2 linked regions of the Homo sapiens genome follow. The protein of the gene in region 1 purifies or fractionates together with the protein of each later gene. This does not show direct contact. Each region holds a gene or a part of one and is shown on either strand. Other genes may lie near its edges. The genes, in order: AVEN and APAF1.

Region 1 (3,824 bases):
GCTTTAAATAACACTTCTCCTACAATTAGGAGAATAGAAGTATAAAATAAGGGCAAATATTATAGAAGTCTTTCAGCAAGTCTCTCAACCCCAAATGCCTTATTTTCTTTGTGTGTATGTAATATTTTCTTCCCAAGGAGTTCTGATTATTTTCCAAGCAGGCTTCCTCTAATTCTTTTCATATAAGAGATGACAGATATTCTCCCCCTTTTAGGATGCACATAGGGACATAGTGGTGACTTGTGATATGCTCCCCAACTCCAGGCCTAGAGCATACTGTCTGATAAACTGATTACCATCTGCCCCCAGCTTCAGAGAGGTGGCTGAAGCTGCAGACCCGAAGCCCGTAGGCACTGTCCTCCCTGTTCTGCTCCCACATCAGCGTATGTGCTGTGGGTGGCTCGTTTGATCTGTGGGCTGGTTTTAGGCTCAATTGTTTGGGATGGCCTTTGACGCATACGGATTACGAGGAGGGGAGTCTCTTAGAAAATGACTGCCTGGCACTTTACAAAGAACGTGTTATATATGCCATAGAAAAAGGTGAGAATTACAAATATTTGTCTTTGCTTAAGTCTGGGCCTACGCCTGAGGTACTGTTTAGTATTCTAGGACACATCGAAGATAGATTGTTGAGGAATATGGTAGAAGCCGAACAATTTACATTTCATCTCCTTTTGAACCATACTGATTACCAAAGAATATTTCAAGTAGCTTCAGAGTTTCAAATAATTCTAAGCTTCGTCATTCATCAAAACATAGAGCACTTGTTTACTAAATGTTTTTATTAAATGGAGCTTATTCAAAGTGAATGAGACAGACCATGCCTGTTCATTGCTCTAAGCCCCTTACCTGGGCACACTCGGTGACCTGTAGTCTGTAGTATGGTAGATGCTCAGTAGATATTTACCTAATACATGAAAAAGAATACAACCTAAAATAAGGGGTGTGATGAATGAATTAACAATACTGAGAGAGATAGCTACTTTGCACTGGAAGTGATTAGAATTGGTACCATGGGGAAAAGATCATTTGAACGGGTCTTGGTGGACAAGTGTGACTCTGGTAGGTCCTGTCTGAGGAAACAACATGAAAATGGTAAGATCAGGAAAACGAGGTTATGCTCAGAGAAGGGTGTGGCCAGAGTGTAGTATTCCCAGAGGAGGAGGCCTCAGGGGCAGGTGTGGGCTAGTTAGTACCAGCAGTTTCAGACCTGAGTGTGAATTCTAGATCTGAGACTTGGGCAAACTTTTTCCTTCTCTATTGCTTCACCTGTAAAATGGAGGTAATAACAAAATATAACTCAGAGTTATAAGAAGGACTAAATTAGATAATAAATAAAAAGCCCTTGAGTGCAGTTCCTGATGCATATGAAACACTCAAAATGAGCTCTTTTATTACTAATATTATCTGTTAACAAAGTTTTGTTTAGCAAGAACATGGAAATGGTTAGATCTAACTTCAGCAGTATTGGGAAGGATGGGGAGGGATTGAACGGATGAGATGAGAGGTTAGAGGCAGGGAAACCGATTAGGAGGATGTGATGTTGGACGAATGGGAAAGAACGAGAGCCTGAGAGGGTCAGGCAGTGAGCGTGGGACAGGGGTTACTCATAGACAAGACTTGAGTGGAGGATGGGGTCAACTGTGCTCACTGGCCAGATGTGAGACACAAGGACAAGAAAGATTTGCAATGGCACTATGCTTTCTAGCTTGAGTAACTAGGTGAGTGGTGATGCCATGAATGGAAAAAAATAAGAGCAGAAAGAAGTTAAGTTTGATTTTGAACAGTTCGAGTTGGAGGTGTTGGTAGGACATGGCTGAAACTGAATTCATTTCACCATCAAAACGATTTCCTGTCTGACTTAACTCCTCACTAAATTTTCTTCCTTGTTGATGTAAGAGAAAAAACTGGATATATATAATATATAATACGTATTATATATAATTATATGTAATATATAATACGTATATTATATATTGAGTGCATATATATAATATATATTATATGTTGAGTGTATATATATATTATATATTATATATATGTACACACACACATATATGTAATTTGTTGTTCCTTATACCATCCCATGTCCTCAGTGTGACCAGTGACGCAAGACAATAGAGAGGGGGCGGGCGCAGTGGCTCACGCCTATAATCCCAGCACTTTGGGAGGCCGAGGTGGGCAGATTACCTGAGGTCAGGAGTTCGAGACCAGCCTGGCCAACATGGTGAAACCCTGCGTCTACTGAAAATACAAAAATTAGCTGGGCGTGGTGGGGCACGTCTGTAATCCCAGCTGCTTGGGAGGCTGAGGCAGGAGAATCGCTTGAACCAAGAAGGCGGAGGTTGCAGTGAGCCGAGATCGTGCCATTGCACTCCAGCCTGGGCAACAGAGAGACTCCATCTCAAAAAAAAAAAAAAAAAAAAAAAAAGAAAAGGAAAAGTAGAAATATGTTTTGTCTTTGCAGTTAAAGGGAGTGGGAGTTTGATAGGGAGACATGTCCAAAATCCTCAAGGGAATCCTGGCAGGAGAGGGACCGGGCGTCACGGCTTGGACTTGGCGTTCGTTGCTCTGTGGCTGATACGCAGGGTGAAGGGACACAGGTCGGCGGTCAGGGTGCTCTGATCTAGCTATGTTGGCCTCCATGACCACAGGGGTGTCGGTCTCTTAGATCCACAAGTGGGATTCTCATACCTTTCCTTTGGACAGGGTGGGTACCATGTAAAGAGAGGATGAGTGGGAAGGTAATTTCCCTGGGTGAACAAACAGATTTATTATTTTTTAAATCACCTAAGTTTTTAAAATTCCACATTAAATTTCTGTTGACATGGTGACTTATCCAGTAGGACTTCCTTGGGCAATATACTGGCTGCTGAGCAAACTGCTGGCTGCTGAGCAAACTGCTGGCTGCTGAGTGATATGCGGCCGTTCCTGAGGGCCTGGCTTTTAAAGGCACAGATTCCCGGCTCCCCCCACGCCACCCAGAGAGTTCAGTTCTGTGGGTGAGGCCTGTGAACCTGTATCTTAAAAAGCTGCCCAGCTTATTACTCCACCATACCATGTACACATGGTCTCTGGGCCCCAGGCTCATATGGACAGTAATTGCTGTAGATTCTGAGGAGGATGTAATAGTCTGATTGAAGGGTATGTTTTTTAGCTGCAAAGTGAAGTATATAGCGGGTTCTTTTCTTACTAAAGAGTGTGCCTTTATACAGATACTGGACACTCAGAGTCTTATGATTCCTGGCCAGAGAGGAAGCTTCAGGCTTGCAGATTCTCAGCACACAGACAGGGTCCTGTGCACACTGATGGCAGAGAAGTGGGACAGAAAGGCTTTGTCCTACAGTCAGGACTGGCTCCCCTCTCCCCAGCACTGGAGTGTCTCCTTTCTCTTTACACCCCACCCCCATAGCATCCTTAGTGGGTGTTGTCTGCTCCTGTCTGCAGCCAGATGTCGTAGGCCAGGCCCTCTACTTCAACTGCCAAGTGGCTGCCAGGGTTGACCAGGCTGACATGGGAGCTGGGTTACCCAGGCAAAAATAATGCACCGAATACTTTAAAACATGTACAAAATGCTGATTTATTATTATTCCAATTAAACCTATTTTTAAAATTCACAGTTTAGTATTAAAAGCAATTCACTGCAGCTAACTTTATATCTAAGGCCTTCTTCAGCTTTAGCCCTTTATGGGGCAAACTGGTGACCAAAAAAGAAAGCCTTCTTACAAAGTGGCTTTTTTTTTTTTTTTTTGAGGAGACTAGCTCGTTTGAAACCTTCGCAACACCTGTCAGTCCCTTCTCACTGCCTAAATAGCCCTTTCCTC
Region 2 (3,824 bases), on another chromosome or scaffold:
TACCTTTGTAGGCACCTTAACGTCCTTCTGAAGGATGGAAAGATCTGTGTAATAATCTTTGATGTCTTCTCTGAGCATTTCAACACTTATAGACATGGCTTCATCTAGAGCCTCATAATCATAAGACGAAGATTTCCTTATTCTCTTAAACTGCTTATTCTGAAGCTGTTTGAGGTAGTACTCCCAGCGATTGGGAAAATCACGTAAAAGTGCACCAATTAAAGATACTACAAGGGGAGAGCCTTTAAAAAAAAAATGAAGTCACTATGCTAATACCATCCTATTTTGTCACTAATAAGAATCGACTTACTTACTTACATTACTAAGAAACAATTTCTGCTGCATGTTATCAAAAGCCTTAAGTATTTATCACTCTTGACTTCACTTCTAGATATTTATCCCAAAAAAAATTAGAAATAAGAAAGATTTCATTCAGTAAGTTCCTGATTATCTTTATTAAGTCAAAATAACATAGATCAAATCTGGCTAAGATGTCATTACAAAAAAAAAAAAAAATATATATATATATATATATATATGCGCCAGTCTAAGCAATATAATGAGACCTTGTCTCTACTAAAAATAAAAATTAGAAAAATCAGCCAGGTGTGGTGGTGTGTGCCTATAGTGCCGGCTACTTAGGAGGCTGAGGTGGGAGGATTGCTTCAGCCCAGGAGGTTGAGGCTACGGTGAGCCATGACAGCACCACTGCATCCTAGCCTGAGGAACAGTGTGAGACTCTGTCTTAAAGAAAAAGAAAAGAATGATTAAGTTTAAGGATATTCATCACAGCACACTTAGAATAGTGAAAAAATCTTAAACAACGTAAACAATGTCCAATAATACAGAAGTGGTTGAATAAATTAAGATATATCAATATTATGCCACTGGTAAATTTTTTTCAAAAAAATATTTAACAACATGGGAAAATGCTCAAGATATAGAAAAAGGGTAAGATCCAGCTGGGTGTGGCGACATGTGTCTGTAGTCCTAGCACTTCAGGAGGCTGAGGTGGGAGGATTGCTTGAGGGCAGAAGTTTGAGACCTGCCTGGGCAACATAGTGAGACCCTGTCCCTACAAAAAAATTTAAAAATTACCCAGGTGTGGTGGTGGGTATCTGCAGTCCCAGCTATTCAGGAGGCTGGGGCAGGAGGATTGCTTAAGCCAAGACATTCAAGCCTGCAGTGAGCTGTGATCTTACTGCACTCCAGCCTGGGTGACAGAGCAAGACCCTGGCTCTTTAAAAAAAAAAGGGCAAAATCCAAAACCACATATACATAATCTCAACTTTTTAAATCTTTGTTCTAAAAGACTGGAGGCAATACTCTCATGATGCTAATAATTATCAGGTTATGGATAATTTCTATTTTTTTTTTAGTTTCACACATTTTCAAAATGGACATGCATCACCCTTTGTAATAACTACAAATTAAGCATTTTTTCTAAGTGTAAGATTTCTTTAAAAATTAACAAAACTGGCCACGTGTGGTGGCTCACGCCTGTAATCCCAGCACTTTGGGTGGCTGAGGCAGGTGGATCACGAGGTCAGGAGTTCAAGACTACCCTGGCCAAGATGATGAAACCCCATCTCTACTAAAACTACAAAAATTAGCTGGGTGAGGTAGCACGCACCTGTAATCCCAGCTACTAGGGGGCTGAGGCAGGAGGATCACTTGAACCTGGGCAGCAGAGGTTGCAGTGAGCAGAGGTCGCACCACTGCACTCCAGCCTGGGCGACAGAGTGAGACTCGTCTCAAAAAATAAATAAAATAAATAAATAAATAAATAAACAAACAAAACTGTGTGTCTATTTGATGGCAGAATGAAAAATAAGGTGGCCAGGTATGGTAGCTCATGCCTATAATCCCAGCACTTTGGGAGGCTGAGGCGGGCAATCACCTGAGGTCAGGAGTTCGAGACCAGCCTGACCAACATGGCGAAACCCCGTCTCTACTGAAAATACAAAAATTAGCTAGGCATGGTGGAACATGCCTGTAGTCCCAGATACTCGAGAGGCTGAGGCAGAAGAACTGCTTGAACCTGGGAGGCAGAAGTTGCAGTGAGCCGAGATCACGCCACTGCACTCCAGCCTGGACGACAGAGTGAGACTTGTCTCAAAAGAGAAAAAAAAAGAAAAAGAAGAAAAATAAGGTATTTCCAAGCATAACAATAATGAAAGAAATAATTTTAAGAGTTGATAGATTTGACTGTTTAAAATTTTAAGCTTCTATATGTCAAAAGAATACAACAAATAAAAGGTACACAAAAAACTGGGTAACAGGCTGGACATGGTGACTCATGCCTGTAGTCCCAGTGCTTTAGGAGGCTAAGGCAGGAGGATCATTTGAGGCAAGTAGTTCAAGACCAGCCTGGGCAACACAGCGAGATTCTATATATAAATTTTAAGTTAAAAAATTGTTTTACTGGGAAATAATACTTGTAAAAATATGACAAAGAGCTAATAGTTTCTATTTTTTGAGTATTTAGAAATAAATTAAAAATACTTATATCAAAAAAGAAAAGTGAGTCAAGGATAATTTCTTAAAGTCAAGGATAACTTCTTAAAACGTATTCAATAAACAAGTAAAAAGTTTAACTTCGCTAAAAAAAAATGCAAATTAAGACACCAGTTTTTACTTACCAAATTAGAACACTATTTTTATAAAATCCCAAGCAAAAACAAGTTTTAAAATCTGATTCTCACTCTATTTTTAACTCTAACAGCAGAGGTCACATCTGTGTCTCACTTCTCTCACTAATGTGGTCTCTAACACACTGTGGGTAGATGGTAAATATTATTTTAATGAATAAATAAATACCATAATATCATGTATCCATTTAAGATATCAGAGAACCTAAAATACTAAATCTCCCAGAAAAGTTTTTGGATGTTCATGTGCTAAATTACCATATTCATTAGCTCAATTAACAAAAGGGAAATTATATAACTCCCTATAATCTCCTCATAAACAAATAAATAACCATACCTTTACATTCTTTTATAATACTATGAGCTTGTTCTGGCAAATCTGCCTTCTTCATATTAACAAAAAGGGATAAAATTTCAAGTCCTTTTTCCTTTCCTAAGGAACTCTCCACAGGGACTACATATTTAGGACCTGCAAACAAAAATCACAAGACAAAGTAAGTAATTTGGTATGTCACATATTTAAATGTAATTAAATTAAATATAAAGGTACTAAAAAGTAAACGAATAATCCTTACCCATTACTGAATCTGTAACACTCTTGTCTCTGGTTGTAAGAAGAATCTGACACTGACTGTCAAAAGCTTTCAACACCCAAGAGTCCCAAACATCATCCAAGATCAAGAGAGACCTAATTTAAAAAAAAAATATTAATCACTAATGACACTTATCTTAAGCTTCCTTTTAAAAAGATAATCCCACCAGTGTCTTTTAAAATCTACCAAATTAAATTTTTTTTAAAACAAATAGATGGCTAGATCTAGGAAAATGATTCTTCCTCTTTGCTATACTCTTCTCAATATGCTGATTCAAATAAGGAAAAAAAAAATTAGAGACTGCCTTCTCCTCAAACCCTAAATCAGAACATATTAAAATTACAGATCCTACCATAAAAGGTTCAGCCATCACTTACTGAGTGCCAAAAAAAAAAAAAAAAAAGCGACCATTACTATCCAAGTAATGGGATTTTCCAACTCAGTCTTTAAGCACCAAAACCAAACTAGAACTGAGCTCAGGTTAGCATTAGAATGAATCATACAATAATGATGATATGTGACCATTTTTTACCTAAAAACTAGCAATTTCATATGTTGTAATCTAAAAGAATATTACCTT

Evidence for each region.
Region 2: the proteins of AVEN (region 1) and APAF1 purify together in Homo sapiens (affinity purification with western blotting; one study listed by BioGRID and IntAct). This does not show direct contact.

The regions. Positions count from the first base shown.
Region 1 is NC_000015.10:33,871,702-33,875,525, reverse strand, and holds part of AVEN (cell death regulator Aven), read left to right. Parts: intron 1-3,824. UniProt on the Homo sapiens protein: Protects against apoptosis mediated by Apaf-1.
Region 2 is NC_000012.12:98,661,971-98,665,794, reverse strand, and holds part of APAF1 (apoptotic protease-activating factor 1), read right to left. Parts: intron 3,340-3,824; coding exon 3,227-3,339; intron 3,121-3,226; coding exon 2,989-3,120; intron 745-2,988; coding exon of another isoform or gene 716-744; exon of another isoform or gene 437-715; intron 243-436; coding exon 4-242; intron 1-3. UniProt on the Homo sapiens protein: Oligomeric Apaf-1 mediates the cytochrome c-dependent autocatalytic activation of pro-caspase-9 (Apaf-3), leading to the activation of caspase-3 and apoptosis. This activation requires ATP. Isoform 6 is less effective in inducing apoptosis.